3 separate regions of the Homo sapiens genome follow, and all the other regions are linked to region 3. The links come from fine-mapping of genetic effects on gene expression. A gene starts in region 3. Each other region holds a variant in brackets. All regions are shown on one strand. Distances are from middle to middle. Region 1 overlaps MICOS10-NBL1 (MICOS10-NBL1 readthrough). Region 2 holds the start of LOC105376817 (a long non-coding RNA gene). Region 3 holds the start of MICOS10 (mitochondrial contact site and cristae organizing system subunit 10).

Evidence for each region. PIP is the estimated chance that this variant, and not a neighbour inherited with it, causes the effect.
Region 1: its variant is the best candidate, but not a certain one, in a credible set for the expression of MICOS10 in whole blood (TOPMed, PIP 0.64).
Region 2: its variant is the best candidate, but not a certain one, in a credible set for the expression of MICOS10 in whole blood (INTERVAL, PIP 0.88).

Annotation. Positions count from the first base shown.
Region 1 is chr1:19,621,229-19,626,228 of GRCh38, reverse strand. All of the region lies in intron 1 of MICOS10-NBL1 (MICOS10-NBL1 readthrough), which reads right to left. MICOS10 (mitochondrial contact site and cristae organizing system subunit 10) reads right to left here. Exons shown (of 4, transcript NM_001032363.4): 2 at 4,082-4,129; 3 at 2,646-2,755. Among named protein-coding and RNA genes, the nearest start is that of NBL1, 21 kb to the left of the region's middle. The variant A/G (reference allele first, on the strand shown) is at 2,661.
Region 2 is chr1:19,524,193-19,531,113 of GRCh38, reverse strand. LOC105376819 (a long non-coding RNA gene) reads right to left here. Exons shown (of 4, transcript XR_947020.3): 3 at 4,726-4,986. It overlaps LOC105376817 (a long non-coding RNA gene), which reads left to right and starts at 1,269. Exons shown (of 4, transcript XR_947017.3): 1 at 1,269-1,449. The variant A/C (reference allele first, on the strand shown) is at 4,236.
Region 3 is chr1:19,593,914-19,598,913 of GRCh38, reverse strand. MICOS10 (mitochondrial contact site and cristae organizing system subunit 10) reads right to left here and starts at 1,935. Exons shown (of 4, transcript NM_001032363.4): 1 at 1,805-1,935. The coding sequence starts at 1,868. MICOS10-NBL1 (MICOS10-NBL1 readthrough) reads right to left here and starts at 1,935. Exons shown (of 4, transcript NM_001204089.2): 1 at 1,805-1,935. MICOS10-DT (MICOS10 divergent transcript) reads left to right here and starts at 2,082. Exons shown (of 2, transcript NR_135054.1): 1 at 2,082-2,204. RefSeq lists a silencer at 1,513-1,722 and an enhancer at 1,843-2,142.

The DNA of each region.
Region 1 (5,000 bases), 27 kb before region 3:
TAGGTTCCTAAGAGTGCCATCCAGCCCCAATCTTCCAGGGAGAAGAGTGGGAAACGAGTGGAACAGGGCCAAACCATCATGACCTGGATAACAATTCCTAAAACCTGTCGAAGGCGTCCCAGGGGAGTGGGGAGAGCATGGTTCTCATCAGCCTACGAACTACATGGCCTTGCCAAGTTTCTCAACCCCGGTAAGAGTCTGCTTTCTCATCAGCTGAATGAGGATAGTAACATCTCTCACAAATCAACTGGCAGGTCTAGAGGGAAAGATTATTAAAGATAAAGCACCCAGGATGGTCCTGGGGGCAGATTGGGCACTCAGGAGGCAGTTATTACAATAGGACTACACTGAATAAGCCCAGGTTGGGATTTTGCTCCATTTTTCAGGGAATGGAGGATGACAACATCGAGGCACAGACTCAAGTCCAGATAAAGTTACAAGGCCATTTTGGAGCAGGACACACAAATGTAAAAAATGGAACAATATTTTCCACAGGAACTCCCAGCCATTAAATACATAATATGCATATAATCACCCCTGAGCCATTATCCCTGACAACTCAGTTTGGAACAATGGAAATGTTTTAAGCAAAAGACCTGAAGCTTCTCTGTCTGCTCCTTTCGGTTCTCCCCACAATCAGCTCTGATGCCAGGAAAGCGAGGAGCCAGGGAGTGGTGGAAAAGGCCGGCTGCCGGCTTCAGTGCCACACAGCTGCGCCTCTTCTTGCATGGTCCCTGTGATGACCTCACTCTTGCTTTGGTGCAGAGATGGCTCCCCTACTCCCATCTCTCCAGCAGACATGGGCTGGCTGCAGGCAGCTGACGGTTTCAGCAGGTTCTAAAATGGCAGGTGCAGGGCCGTGGCAGGATACTGCTACTTTGGATTTGGTGGCCCTTGTGGCCACAGCTCCTGACTAGAATTAGGACATGCATTTGTACCACATTTTCCACTCTACTTGTTGTTACAGTGGAACAATGGACAAGTCAATCACCCTTTTTGGGCTGGCCTCATCTATAATAACCAATGTTTTTATATATTTCGTACTTCACAGCTTAAAAACATTTTGTGTCTAAATCTCACAACAACACTATAGGTAGAAATTATTACCCTCATTTTATGGAGGAAAATGGAAGCTCAGAAGTGAAACAACTTAAGATCACACAGGAAGCAAGTGACAGGCTTGCACCTAGGTCTCCTGGCTTCTGTGCCCTTTCCACTAGCCCCACTGCAGCCCCGTTCACAGTGATTCTAGCCCAAGAGTAACCTGGAAAGCTGAGGCTTCTGTGCATGCAGGGAATGTGAAGTTGTTCACTGAAAATTGTGCTGCTACAAAGGTTATGCCTTAGTAAGCCTGAGGCCATCGGCACTTACCTCTAATAGAATAATTTACCTCATTCATTCATTTTACATTTATTTGAGTGCTATTTTGTTTCAGGCCCTGGGAATACAAAATAAGTGCCACCTCTGTCCTTGGGCACCCAGCCTCCAATGTTCCTGTCACTTAAACCCCACAGTAACTAATCATCAAGTAAGGAAAATACTGCTACACACGAAGCCCTGAGGAAGCCTGCTGCCCTCTTCCCTTTGGAGGTGTGGGTAAGAAGTTTCCAGCTTGTGTGCAGCATTAAAAATCCACCTGAAGGCCAGGCACAGTGGCTCACACCTATAATCCCAGCACTTTGGGAGGCCGAGACGGGTGGATCACCTGAGGTCAGGAGTTCAAGACCAGCCTGGCCAACATGGTGAAACCCCACCTCTACTAAAAATACGAAAATTAGCCGGGCGTGAGTGGCTCGTGCCTGTAATCCCAGCTACTCGGGAGGCTGAGGCAGAAGAATCGCTTGAACCCGGGAGGCAGAGGTCGCAGTGAGCCAAGATTGTGCCACTGCACTCCCACCTTGGTGGCAGAGTGATACTCCATCCCCACAAAATAAATAAAATAAAATAAAAATAAAAATCCACCTGAAGACAGGACTTCAGTAGAATGTGAGACTTACAGTCCAGACTGCCTTCTTCAATTAAAAAGCAGAACCACGGCCTGGCCAACATGGTGAAGCTCCGTCTCTACTAAAATACAAAAATCAGCCAGGCGTGGTGGCAGGTGCCTGTAATCCCAGCTACTCAGGAAGCTGAGGCAGGAGAATCACTTGAACCCGGTTGCAGTGAGCCAAGATGGCACCACTGCACTCCTGCCTGGGCGACAAAGCAAGACTCCGTCTCAAAAAAATGAAACAAATTAATAAAAAGCAGAATCATGGCTGAGTCCCGGAAGTCTTTGGGTTTAGCTTAAGTATATGTGAGATGTTTACAGGGCACTCTGAGCTCTTAAATGAAAAGTGCTACTTACAGATAGTTAACACAATCTACCTTACCATTGATGATAAACATTCAAGCAGGCTCCTTAATTCCAATCGGCTAGCACATGAGTATATATCTGAACGTACATACGCATCTGAAGGCACAGGGGAGACTTTAGCACCAAAGCAGTGATGACATCACTGAAGGCCAAAGAGCAATTAGTATCTGAGAGTGGTGCCACAATGACACACATGGTTTACTCATTACAAACAGTCTAAAGAATTCTTCAGGGCTCAGGAGAAATCTTTTTCTTCTGAAGGAAAGAGAAATATATATTCTGTACATACTTTGACATATTTTCC[A/G]TGTAGAAGATATGGAGCCTGGAAATCATGCTGACAGTTGGAATAAGCCATTCCTAATCCCATGCCAGAACCGAAGGCTAATGGCCACATTCTTCCTAGTGAGCAAAAAAGGGAAAATCCCAATAGGGAATTATTAAGAGAAGATAAAGCTCCCCATCCTCTTAAATACATTTACTTAGGGTTCAATAAATATTCAACGTGCATCATACTAATGACTATAATAACCATACATTTTTATCAATGTTTCACAATGGCCCCAAAAAAGAGGTGTAAATTAGTGAAGTTATTAATTTAGCAAATACTTGTTAAGTGCCTATGCTGATAAGTTTGAGGAAAATAAGTAGTAAAGGCCAGGCGCGGTGGCTCACAACTGTAATCCCCGCACTCTGGGAGGCGTAGGCGGGCGGATCACGAGGTCAGGAGATCGAGACCATCTTAGCCAACATGGTGAAACCCTGTCTCTACTAAAATACAAAAAAATTAGCCAGGCATGGTGGCGTGTGCCTGTAATCCCAGCTACTTGGGAGGCTGAGGCAGGGGAATCGCTTGAACCAGGGAGGCGGAGGTTGCAGTGAGCTGAGATCGCACCACTGCACTCCAGCCTGGCGACAGAGCAAGACTCCGTTTCAAAAAAAAAAAAAAAAAAAAGTAGTAAAATATGAAAACACTAGATAAACCTTTTAACTTCTCTATATCAGTTCTAATCATCTGCTCAGTTTAACTAATATCTTAGCCAGTAAGATGCATGAATTCTAAAAAGATGTAAGCATTTTACCGATATTTACATGCTTTGATTGTAGTAGTAAGTCATGGGGTTTATTTAAGCCACTCTGTAAGTGATTCTTTCATATCAGCACTATGTGTTAATTATGATTCTCTAGTCAAGTATTTCCCACTGGTTCTTCACGGAAAGAGGTCAAAAGGATCCCTCTGGCATCTATTCGGTATCCAAACTTCAGAAGTTCTTCCACAGAATGAAAAGAATATTGCCTGCCCTTTGCTTAGGATAATTTTTGACCAAGAAGTATGTGTATTTCTGGTCTACTTGTTTCTATTACCAGCAGGATTCTCATTTTCAATTCCTCTAGAAAAAATCACAATTAATTAGAAATATCTGAGCGTGTAGACTTGGCCAAATGACTCACTGGCATCAAGTACAGGCTTTTGCAATGATATCATATTTAGGATAACAGGCACCCTGCCTCAGTGCCCAGGGGAATGCTGGAGATGCCCAACCCATTTTGACCTCTTTCAAGTCCACATTCTTTATCTAATTCATTTTATAATGGGCTACCTAACCCCATAAATGGATGGGTTGGCAACCCACAAATTGATGGGTTCCAATGTGTCCTCTGGAAGTGTCCCTGCTACGTATATGTATACACTATGACATTATGTTGAAAAGACAGAGTGACACTTACTTTTAAAGAAGGTAAGTGAGAAAACAATTCCTAATCCAAAACCAGTACCTACAAAGAGGGAGAAAAAACATGCTAAATCTCATAGCAGTAACTTCACAAAGATAACATTAACATTTCTTAAATGTGAACATCATTAAACAGATTTTTTTTCATAATTTGGTAGAGAATTAATTTTCTAATTTCTAACCGTCTTTATTTGTCAGAGGTTTTACAGATGCCTTTGGTTCTCCTGCCCAACATGAAATAAAAACTTGACTCCCTGTTCTCTCTAGACAAGTTGCGGGGTGTGGGGCAGGGGAACAAGCCAGGAGACTGTTCTAGAGTGGACCCTCTCTACACTGCTGGCAAGGAGCCTCCAGCATCCTGGGCTCTCCTACCCACCTCAAAGAGGGATACCACAGCCAAAACATGAGATAGTGCCAACAGGACGCTCCCCTTGTCACCTCAGCACTTGGAGTGATGGCTACTTTTTGAGGAAGATAAAAAGCAGTAATCCAGAACAATTCCTAAAGGCTGAGCTATCACACAAGCCAGAATATCTAGGCAGAGGAAAAAGACGGCCCTCCAGAGCCCCAGATGAAGAAAATGACTTGCCCAAGGATATTGTTTAGTTAGTTGCGGAACAGTCATCTGGGCTCAAGTCTGCCAGACTCCAATGCTACTGTACCTGCCATGTCCAGATGTTGGATTCCTCTCCAGTTTCAACCCCTAAACAATTACTACCCCTCAAGGGAAATTGGAATGTCAAGATTTCTACTGCCAGTGAAATACAGCCAAAATATGACTGTGCTCCCCATACAGCTCAGAATGCTAGACAACCTGGGTAGTAACAAGTCTTCACAAAGCCAAAAGGGCCTGTTAGATTCATTCCCAGACCAATCCTACCGCACAAGTCACAGACACAAGAAGTTGACCTGGT
Region 2 (6,921 bases), 69 kb after region 3:
GTGTGCAGTTGGAAAACTCTATTATATGCTACAGGGCTCAAGAACAAACACCATTATAATTAAAATAACCATTGCTAGCTGGGCACAGTGGTTCATGTCTGTAATCCCAGCACTGGGAGGCCAAGGCGGAAGGATCGCTTGAGCTCAGGAGTTTGCGACCAGCCTGGGCAACATGGTGAAATCCTATCTCTACAAAAAATAAAAAAATTACCCAGATGTAGTGGTGTGTGCCTGTAGTCCCAGCTACTAGGGAGACTGAGGTGGGAGGACCATGAGCCTCGGAGGCAGAGGCTTCAGTGAGCCAAGATTGCATCACTGCACTCCAGCCTGGGTGACAAAGTGAGATCCTGTCTCAATAATAATAATAATAATAATAACAACAACAATTGCTGGCCTTTATCTAGCACTTACTGTGTGCCCAGTACTACAAAGATCTTTGGATTTAATTATCTCATTTAATTATCCCAATAACCCTTTGAGGTGGGGGCTGTTATTATTCCCCATTTACAAATGAGAAACCTTAGAAAGGGAAGGTCATGTACTTTCAAGGGGTAGAACCCGTGATGTGAATCTTAGTCTGTTTGGGCTGCTATAACAAAAAAACACCATCAACTGCATGGCTTATAATCAACAACCACTTACTTCTCACAGTTCCAGTGGCTGTGACATCAGCAAATTCAGTATCTGATAAGGGCCTACTTTCTGGTTCACAGATAGCATCTCCTCACTGTGTCCTCACGTAGTAGAAGGGGTGAGGGGTCTCTCTAGAGCCTCTTTTACAAAGGTACTAATCACATTCATGAGGGCTCACCCTTATGACCTGTCACCTCCAAAAGGCCCCACCTCCTAATACCATCACTTTGGGGGTTAGGATTTCAATGTATGAATTTGGGAGGGGTGCAGATCACAGACATCCAGGCCATGGCAGAACCAAAGGACTCTGACCTGAAAGTCTGTATGCTTACACCATAGAGTGTTCTAGTAATAACAGTGACAGTTATTATTACTGTTTTAATGATGGATTCCTGTTACCTAGCTGACAACTCTGAGGCTCAGAGAGCATGAGTGAATTGTCCAACGTTGTTTTTGGCAGAGCCGAGCTGCAAAGCCAGGTCCCAAGAGTGCCGAGTCTGTGCTCTTTCTTCTACACTTGCTTAAAATGGAATCCTTTTTGTCCTGCTTCCTGCAGAAACAGAGCTAGATGGAAAAGGGCCCAGGAGACTGGGGAGGAGCGTGGGAAGGGGGGAAATTATTGCTGGTGCCTGGAAGTTTTCACAAGCGTGGATTTCCCCTGGTTGGTTGAAGACTAGATCAGAATCTCTCCAGAGTCTGCTGTGAAGATGCTGTGGAATTCCTGGTGTGTCTGATGAGGTGTTGCTGCGCCGAGGCTGTCAGACAGCTGGCTCTCTGAGAAAACCTCCAGACCCTGTTGCTGCCCCAAGGAATGAGGTCAGATGTAGCTAAATGTTATGGAGCCTTTGCTGAGCGTCAGGCACGGGGTTTAGGTGTGCACATTTACTCAGTGTCTTCATGGCCATACACAAGTCAATACTCTTTATTATTCCCATCTTACAGAGGGGGAAACTGAGACACAAAAAGGACAACTTGGGCCAGGCGCAGTGGCTCACGCCTGTAATCCCAGCACTTTGGAAGTCCGAGGTGGGTGGATCACTTGAGATCAGGTGTTCGAGAACAGCCTGGCCAACATGGTGAAACCCCATCTCTACCAAAAATACAAATATTAGCCAGGCATGGTGGCGCATGCCTACAATCCCAGCTACTTGGGAGGCTGAGACAGGAGAATCACTTGCACCTGGGAGGCAGAGGTTGCAGTGAGTCGAGATCGCGTCACTGCACTCCAGCCTGGTCTCTGTCTCAAAAAAAAAAAAAAAAAAAAGAGAGAGAAAATACAAAACGGACGACTTGTCTGGGTGCGCATAGATATATGGTCTTCAAGCAGGTTTGCTGGGGTGCGGAGAGCTGGTAAACTGTAACAGTTTAAGCCCGGGGCCTGCAGTGAGGGGGCCTGATTTCATGGACCCTAGGCAATCTTGCCTCTGTGGGCCCCTTCCCTCCATAAAAAAATTTAACTTTATATTTCACGACTATGTTGGAATGAAGTTAAATCTAATCCAGACTGAAGTCACTATTTTTAAAATGTATTTTTTTATTTTTTAATTTTAAAAAATGTAATAATAGAGATGAGGTTTCACTATGTTGCCCAGGCTGGTCTCAACCTCCTGGACTCAAGTGATCCTTCTGCTTTGGTTTCCCAAAGTGCTGGGATTATGGGTGTGAGCCACTGTGCCTTGCTGAATTCATTATTATATGCTCATTATTATTATATTTATGTTTTTCTTCCAAGTTTAAAACAAATTAAAATAAAACAATGTTATTAGAATAAAATAAAGCCTCATGGGCCCTGTGCTTGCGGTGTCTGATGGGGAAGTTGGCTTTGTGGGATGAGTCCTGCTTCTCCCACGTGCTGACTGTGTGACCTTAGCCAACTTCACCTCTCTGTGCCTCACTTTATGTAATGTGGGAATAAATGGTAGACTATATGGTATGGGGTGATTATGAGGATGAAATGAACAATGTATGTAAAATGCTCAGTACAGTGCCTGCCATAAATGAAAATGCTCAATCAATTAATAAATATTAGTTGATATTTTTTGTTTTTTAGTAACTTGTATTGGTCCCACAGCTAGCAAGTGGTAGAGCTAAGAGTGTACCCTAGGTTTAACTGACTATCAAATCTCTGATCTAACCTCCTCAAAGCGGTGACAGAATAAGTGGCAGAACAGAGCTGAGAATTGCGCTACAGTGAATCTGTTCCCCAACTAAAATACAGTCAACACATTGTAAATTTTCCAGTAGGGTCTTCATATATATATATATATATATATATATATATATATATATATATATGCATACACATATGCACATACACACACATATCTCTCCCTATGAAGTAGACATTATTTATTTAAATTTTATGTAACATATATTTTACCACTATATATATGACCACTATTTTATATATATATATATACCCACTATATATATTTTTTCATATTTTTTATTTTATTTTTTGTGACAAAGTCTTGCACTGTCACCCAGGCTGGAGTGCAGTGGCACAATCTCAGCTCACTGCAACCTCCACCTCCTGGGTTCATGCGATTCTCCTCCCTCAGCCTCCCGAGTAGCTGGGATTATAGGTGCACACCACCAAACCTGGCTAATTTTTTGTATTTTTTTTTTTTTTTTTTTTTTAGTAGAGACGAGGTTTCACTATGTTGGCCAGACTGGTCTCAAACTCCTGATCTCAGGTGATCCATCCACCTCAGCCTCCCAAAGTACTGGGATTACAGGCATGAACCACTGCTCCCGGCCCACTGTATATATTTTACCATTGTATATATACACCACATACACACACATATATCTCCCCATGAAGTAGACATTATTTATTTAAATTTTGTTATATTTATTTTATGACTATATATACAGCCACCTTTTAATATATATAAGTATATATTTTACCACTATATATTTATATATAAACATACATATACCTAGTGATAAAAATATAATAATATAATATGTATAAATATATACATGTTATATATAATATGTATACATATATAATATGTGTATATACACATTATGTGTATATATAATATATAATGCATAATACATAGTCTGTATATATACATATTATATATACATTATATACATATCAATTATATAATATTCATGTAATATAATTTATATTTATTATTGAATAATATGTATTAATTTATGATATGTACATATTAATATGTATACTAATATGTATATACATTGCATAAATACATAATATGTATATATTATAATATGTGTATATCTACATATGTGTATATGTATTTACATATATGCGTAAAATATTTATATATCATGAATATTTTAATATGTATATATTAATATATGTATGCTATAATACCAAAATTATTTATAAATCTATATTTATATAATCTATAACATAAAATTTACTATTTCAACCATTTTTTAGTGTATAATTCAGTGGTATTAAGTAGATTCACATTGCTTGCACTATTTATCTCCAGAACTTTTTTATCTTTCAAAACTGAAACTCTGTACCCATTAAAAAATAATTCCTCATTCCATCCTCCCTTCAGCCCCTAGTAACTGCTCTTCTAGTTTGTCTCTATGAGTTTGACTGATCCAAGTACATC[A/C]TATAAGTTTCATCCTAAGTCATCAAAATCTGTTGTGTATTTTACACTTACAGCATATCTCAGTTTGGCCTCACCATATATTTTGAGTGCTCAGTAGCCACATGTGGCCACCATATTGGACAGCACAGGGCTATAGGTTGGGTGATCAGGATTCTGGGGACACTCCATATCCAGGATAACCTTTACTACTACAATTCTCTCCCATATTCCCCGTGAATATGTGAGTTGAGGTTAGAAAAATATACTCCTCCTGAGATTATGGTGTAGGAGTAGAGTCAAAAGCCTGAAATAAGAGTCCATGGGTTTTAGTTGAAGTGGACTGGAGTGAGCTGCCTGGACTTAGACTTATCGAGGATCTGCAGAAGACATGCCCTCTCCATCGCTCTTCCTACCACCACTCTCACTTGCACCCATGCATGGAGTGCTGGAGGCTGGACAGTGGGATTTCGATTGAGGATGTCTACTATGCTGAAATAAACAAGCAACACACCAGACTATTACTCATAGGCTGACACACTTGAAGACTGAAGGGTATCTTAGGCATCATCCAGCGGAGTGGCTTTGAGCTGGTTTGTGGAGTCACTGGGCTTTAAAAAGATAGAGACGTGGATCCTGGAGTTGAGTGTCTGGGTTTGAATCTTGGCTCTGTGACTTACGAGCTGTGTGACCTTCAGCAAGTTGCTCAACTCCATTGGGCTTCAACTCCCTCATGGAAATTGTGGATCATTATAATGCCCACTTCACAGGGTTACTAAGAAGATTTAAGTAAAATATTAAATTAATGCATGTAATACACTTAGAGCTGAGCTTAAAGTAAATACAATTTAAGTGTTTGTTAAAGAATGACTCAGTGGCTCTACTGAGGGAAAGGCCAGGTCCCTGTTCTCACTACAAGCAGAGAAGCTTTGCTTTTATCTGCTTTTATGTTGGGCTTCCTTGTAAAATGTCATTAAAAGGAAGAACAATGGGTGAACACTCACTCGTGTTGTAATGTAAGCCTGTACTTTACAAATGGGAAACACAACCAGGACAGCTATGTGCTCTGCCTGAGGTCCCACAACTGAGAGGTGGGTAGAACAGGTGCAGAAACCAGGGAAGGGCTGCTTCACTACACTGCGCTGTCTATACTGTGCTGAAAGACTGGAATTTTGGGGTCTTGTTTTCCTAGGGAAGTCTCATACATCACTGGTAACAGCTCAGCTCCATGCCAGCTTGAAAAAAGATGGTATAAATGAGCTTTTTGGCTGGGTGCAGTGGCTCACATCTATAATCCCAGCATTTTGGGAGATTGAGGCAGGCAGATCCCTTGAGTCCAGGAGTTTGAGATCAGCCTGGGCAACATGGTGAAACCCCATCTCTACACAAAAAAAATACAAAAATTAGCCAGGCGTGATGATGTGCGCCTGTAGTTACAGCTACTCAGGAGGCTGAGGTGGAAGAATTGCTTGATCCCAGGAGGTCGAGGCTGCAGTGAGCTGTGATCACACCACTGTGTTCCAGCTTGGGTGACAGAGGGAGAACCTCTCGAAAAAAAAAAAAAAGAAGGAAAAAAAAAAGAGCTCTTTGCTTCTTCATGGCAAAGGTCATTGAAGGTGGTCCCTGGAGGAGTTGCGCTTTCTTGTCCCATGAATGGTGGAGAAGTTTTGTTGTTCTTTTGAGACAAGGCCTCGCTCTGTCACTCAGGCTGGAGTGCAATGGCATGACTACGGCTCACTGCAGCCTCAACCTCATGGGCTCAGGTCAAGCCATCCTCCCACCACAGCATCCTGAATAGCTGGGAGTACAGGGGCGCACCACCACACCTGGCTGATTTTTAAAAATTTTTTTTGTAGAGGTGGGGTCTTGCTGTGCTGCCCAGGCTGGTCTCAAACTCCTGGGCTCCAGTGATCCTCCCGTTTCAACCTCCTAAGGTGCTGGGATTACAGGCATGAGCCACTGCACCCAGCTGGTGGAGAAGATTTTGAGCCTGCTGGATGGTATTTCTGGGTGCTAGAACCTTCCCTAAAGTAGATGACTTTGGGCTCGGCACTCAACATCCTCTCCATCTCTCCTCCGCAGAATAATGGCTGAGAGGCTCAAGGAATTGATGCCACCTCTAGGCCTCTGATTAGTCTAATCAATCACCCACCTTTTTTTTCTTTTTTTTTTTTTTGCTAATGTTTGGTTCAGGGATGGCAGGTCGAGGCCAATGTGGGCCAAAGAGATACTGGAAAATTTTGCTAAGTTCTCAGTCTTTTTGAATGTAAACTAGAAACACATTGTTCTAGTTTCTATGGGAAGTCCTTCTGCAGTCATGAAAAAGACATCCTGAGAACTAGACAATATTTGAAGTAAGAAAGAGAATATCTGGCCTGGTGCGGTGACTGACACCTACAATCCCAGAGCTTTGAGAGACCGAGGGAGGAGGATCCTTTGGGGCTAGGTGTTCGAGACCAACCTAGGCCAACAGAGTGATACCCCTATCTCTAAAAATAAAAATAAAAACAAAAAATTAGCTAGGAGTGATGGTGTGTGCCTGTAGTCCTAGTTACTCAGGAGGCTAAGGCAGGAAGGTTGCTTGGAGTCCAGGAGTTTGAGGCTGTAATGAGCTATAATTGTGTCACTGCACTCTAGCCTGGACAACAGAGCAAGACCCTGTCTCTAAAAAAAATTAAAAAATAAAAAGAGAAAATCCCCCAAAATAGTG
Region 3 (5,000 bases):
TTAAAAATAAATATAAATAAAATACATTAAAAAATTTTAAAAGCCAGTTATTATGACTACCATTACTGTATACATAAAGCACCAGGCACTGTGCTAAGTAGCTTATGTATTTTTCTGTCCTTTACTTTTTTTAATACTTTCAGGTAAATCTCTTTTGATCACCATTTCGTAGTTGAGAAAGAGACTTTACCCAAAGCTACAAAATTAGTAAGGATGGGCGAGAAGAGTGAGAGTGGATGATTCGAACTCAGCTCTGTCTACCTCCAAAGCCCCTTCTTCTTCTTCTCCTTTTTTTTTTTTTTAAGGGAAGGGTCTCACTTTGTTTCCCAGGCTGGTCTCCAACTCCTGATCTCAGGCGATCCTCCCGCCTCGGCCTCCCAAAGTGCTGGGATTACAGGCCTGAGCCACTTCGCCCAGCTCAAAGCCCTTTCTTAACTATATGACATTGCCTAGTAACTACTTTGGTCATTTCATAGCTAGGTGTTAAGTCTTCTCTCTGAACTGCAAGCTGTTAACAGTAACAAAACAAAAGTGACTGTTTAGTCGCTTCCAAAATAACCCATTCCTAAGTGATCCATATTCAAGCCTTTAAACAAACTAACTCATTTAATCCTCCCAACGACTCCATGAGATAGTAATAATTATTACTGCCGATTTCCAAATAGGAATCAGGCACAGAAAAGTTAAATAACTTGCCCCAAATCACTTGACTGTAAGTGCTGAATTCAGAGGTGAAATGGTAACTTATAAACTGTTTCATTTATTGACTCACTCTCAACAATTTTTATTAAGCACTCTTTTAGGGGCTGGGGATGGGGCAGTGACTAAACCAGAAAACATCCCTGCTCTCATGGAGCTTACAATCTTATTCCTCAATGTTTTCATTCAAAGACACAATCCTAAATCCTCTTAAATACCCTAAGATTACCACACAAAAATATCACATTTGGGTAACAAAAATTAGCATCGAAGAAGGAACATGGGACTTGACCCCAGAAAAGCTGGGTAAAATCCCTAATTTTGCCATTTGTTAGCTGTGACCGTGGGCAAATTCCTTCACCTGACTCTCCATTTCACGGCCTGTAAAAAGATTATTTCGCACAATGAAGACAATATACGCTCAATAAACGAGTTTCCTTTCTCCTCCCCACCATACAGTGACTTCATAATTTGTGCCGTCACTGAGCACGTGTTAAAGGACTACGCAGAAAAACTTAACGTGAACAACTTCTTACTTTCCAGCGCAATTCTCATTCCAGATCATCACCCCTCTAAGTTCAGGCCCCAGACTACTCTGATTCAAATAAATCAGGTGGCAAGTCGGGAATGACAGCAACTCGCATCAGGGCCTGGCGGTGTCTATGAAATGCTCCAGGTGACCTTCTCCAGAAGGCACTTTGGTTTCCGCCGGGGAGCAGCGTGGCCTCCTGAGCCGGTTCCCCGCCGCGTGCCGGGGAATGCACCACCCGGGAGGAGAACCCCGCGGCTCCGGCACGAGGGTGTGCCCCGACACTGTCTTCCACTCAAGAGCTCTGCGACTCTCCTGCCACCTGCCAACCCCGACCACCTCCTCCGGGCTGCAACTCCACCCCGCACCCGGGCTGCTGCTCCGGCTCCTCGGGTCTGTGCCCGCCGCCCGAGTGACCTCCCGCCGGGGCCCGGGCGGCTCGCCCTGGCCGGAGGGGCCGGAAAAGGCCGAGAGGCCTGACCTCCCGTGGGGCTTCCCTTCCTTCCTCCTGGGCAGCGCAGCCTGGAGCCAGCAGCTCTGCACCGGCCGGGCCTGCTGGGGCGAAAAGCCCCTTACCTATCTTCACGACCGCATCCGCCAGACACCGGTCCCACTTCCTGCCGAGCTCCGACTCAGACATGTTCCCCACCCGCGCCTCCAGCTTTCCTCTCGGCCGGCCCCCGCGCTCCGACCCCTGAAAGTCTCGCGAGAGCTGGAAACAAGTCCCAGGTCAGGAAGGCAGGCGCAGACGCTCCAGATATCGCGAGATGATCCGCTGCTTCCATCCCTTCCGGTTTTTTCAGTTGGTCGTCAAGGTGACGAGTTGTCTGGAGGCTCGAGGTGACCCTGACCTTGGGGCTGCGCCTATGGGTTTGCGAGGCTGACAGTTTCCTAGGCGTCACCCCAAGCCGTGACCAGGCCTTTCCTCCTCACCAAAGTGCGACATTGGCCCTGGAAATCCCCCGGGCAAGAGAGGGTACAGACTTGATTTATTCATTCATTAACGTACTCACCTTCACTTTCCCTACTCACTCTCTCATTCGTTCACTGGTTTCTTGCATTGGAATTCCCGCCTGAACCACTAACACCGAAACTGCTCTGGGAAAGATTACCTACCGCCAAATCAAATGGACTCTTTTCTGACCTCTGTACCGCATTCCACACAATTTTCCCTCCCTCTGATCCTCCCTGGCTCCTCTATTCGTTTCACTCCCGGTAACGCCACTCTTTCCTCTTCTCCCCATCTGCTGTTGTCTGTTGGTTTCCTCCAGGGCTGCCTTTTCTCTGCCAGCTGTTTAAGGACTGTTGGTTCGCAAGCTTCCATCAATTCTCTTTTCACTGTACAGACTCTCCCTGAGTAATTGCAAACACTGCCAAATTATATCTCCAGGTAAAACGTCTACCTCAGGCCTCCTATCCATGTATATATTTACACACCCACCCACACACACACACACATACACATACATACACAGGGTGCCCTCTGTATCTGTGGGTTTTGCATCCATGGATTTAACCAACCATGGACCAGAAACATTTTTGAATCAAATAAAAAATAATGCAAAATTTAAAATACAGTACAACTATTTACCTAGGATTTACATTGTATTAGGTATTATAAGTAACCTAGAGATGATTTAAAGTATATGGGAGCCAGCGCAGTGGCATGCGACCGTAGTCCCAGCTACTTGGGAGGCTGAGATGGGAGGATTGCTTGAGACTAGGAGTTCGACTTCATCTCTTTAAAAAAAAATAAGTAATTTTAAAAAAGGATATGTAAGCATGTGTGTAGGTTGTATGCAAATACCACGCCATTTTATATATGGGACTTGAGCATCCTGCATTTTGGTAACTGCGAGATCCTGAAACCAAATGCCCACAGCTATCAAGAGAGATTGTATATCCAGCCTACTGGCTAGTGTCATTGATTTTAGTCTTCCATCCTACCAACAAATAGAAATCTGACCACGTTATGCCTCTGATTAGAAGCTGTCAATGAAGGCCGAGAGCAGTGGCTCACACCTGTAATCCCAACACTCTGGGAGGCTGAGGCGGGAGGATTGTTTGAGGCCAGTAGTTCAAGACCAGCCTAGGCAGCATAGTGAGACTCCTGTCTCTACAAAAAATTTAAAAAATTAGCCAGGCTAATGTGATGTGTGCCTTTAGTCCCAGCTACTTAGGAGGCTGAGGTAGGAGGATCACTTGAGCCTGGGAAGTGGAGGCTACACTGAGCCATGTTCATGCCACTGCACTCCAGCCTGGGCATCAGAGTGATACCCTATCACAAAAGAAAAAAAAAAAAAGCTGTCAATGACTCCCATTCATACACTGGATCTATCCAAGCTTCAACACTGCACTGATTCTAGGAAGCCTAGTCAGATAGAGCTTAGAGCTGCCTTCCCCTTCTCATTGTCCCACTACCCTGCCTACCCGCATTGATTTCTCTATCTAGTACTGAAACATCTGGTTGTAGATATTATCTGCTAGTAGAACTAGAAGTTGCCCCTTCGTCTTCATACTTCCAGTCAGAGCACAATGCCTTGGATAGTAGGGTCTTCTATGAAATATTTGTTGAACTGAATTGAATTTATTCACCTATTTATTTGTTTATTTATTTATTGAGAGAGAGTCGCGCTCTGTTGCCCAGGCTGGAGTGCAGTGGCACGATCTCGGCTCACTGCAACCTCTGCCTACTGGGTTTGAGCAATTCTTCTGCCTCAGCCTCCAAAATAGCTGGGATTACAGGCGCCCACCACCACGCCTGGCTAACTTTTTGTATTTTTTTAGTAGAGATGGGGTTTCGCCATATTGGCCAGGCTGGTCTTGACTCCTGGCCTCAAGTGATCCACCCACCTTGGCCTCCCAAAGTGCTGGGATTACAGGCATCGTTCAACTATTTATTTGCAACTATGACAGCAAAACTCTGTTGTATCAGATCTTGCTACGACAGCCTCTTCCTTCAAGATAACTTCTATGACCACCCTTCCCTTCTCCTAGTTCTCTATTTTTTTAAATTATTCTTTCTTTTTTTTTTTTTTTTTGAGACAGAGTCTTGCTCTGTCACCCAGGCTGGAGTGCAGTGGCATGATCTTGGCTCACTGCAACCTCTGCCTCCCAGGTTCAAGAGATTCTCCTGTCTCAGCCACCTGAGTAGTTGGGATTACAAGCACGTGCCACCACCCCCAGCTAATTTTTGTATTTTTAGTAGAGATGGGGTTTCACCATGTTGGCCAAGCTGGTCTTGAACTCCTGACCTCAGGTGAACCACCCACCTCAGCCTCCCAAAGTGCTGGGATTACAGGCTTGAGCCATCATGCCCAGCCCTATTTTTCCTATTCTTTAAATTTTTCTTTGCTTTTCCTTTTTTATAGAGGTGAGGTTTTGCTATGCTGCCCAGGCTGGTCTCGAACTCCTGGGCTCAAGCCATCCTCCCACTTTGTCCTCCCAAAGTACTAGGATTATAGGCCTGAACCACCATGCCCAGCCCCTTCTAATTCTCATCACAGCTACTTATCAGATGATTTGTGTTTTTAATAATTGTTTGTAATTTTAACAATTATTTGTGTGTCTTTTGGATTTTGACTGTGAGCAAATTGAGAATGGAGGCCGTGCCATTTCTGTATCCCTAATGCTTAGCAGAGAGCTTGGTATATATCGGATTCTCAATAAATGCTTGTCGAATGGACATAAAAATTAATAAATAAGGCCGGGCACGGTGGCTCACGCCTGTAACCCAGCACTTTGGGAGGCCGAGGCGGGTGGCTCACAAGGT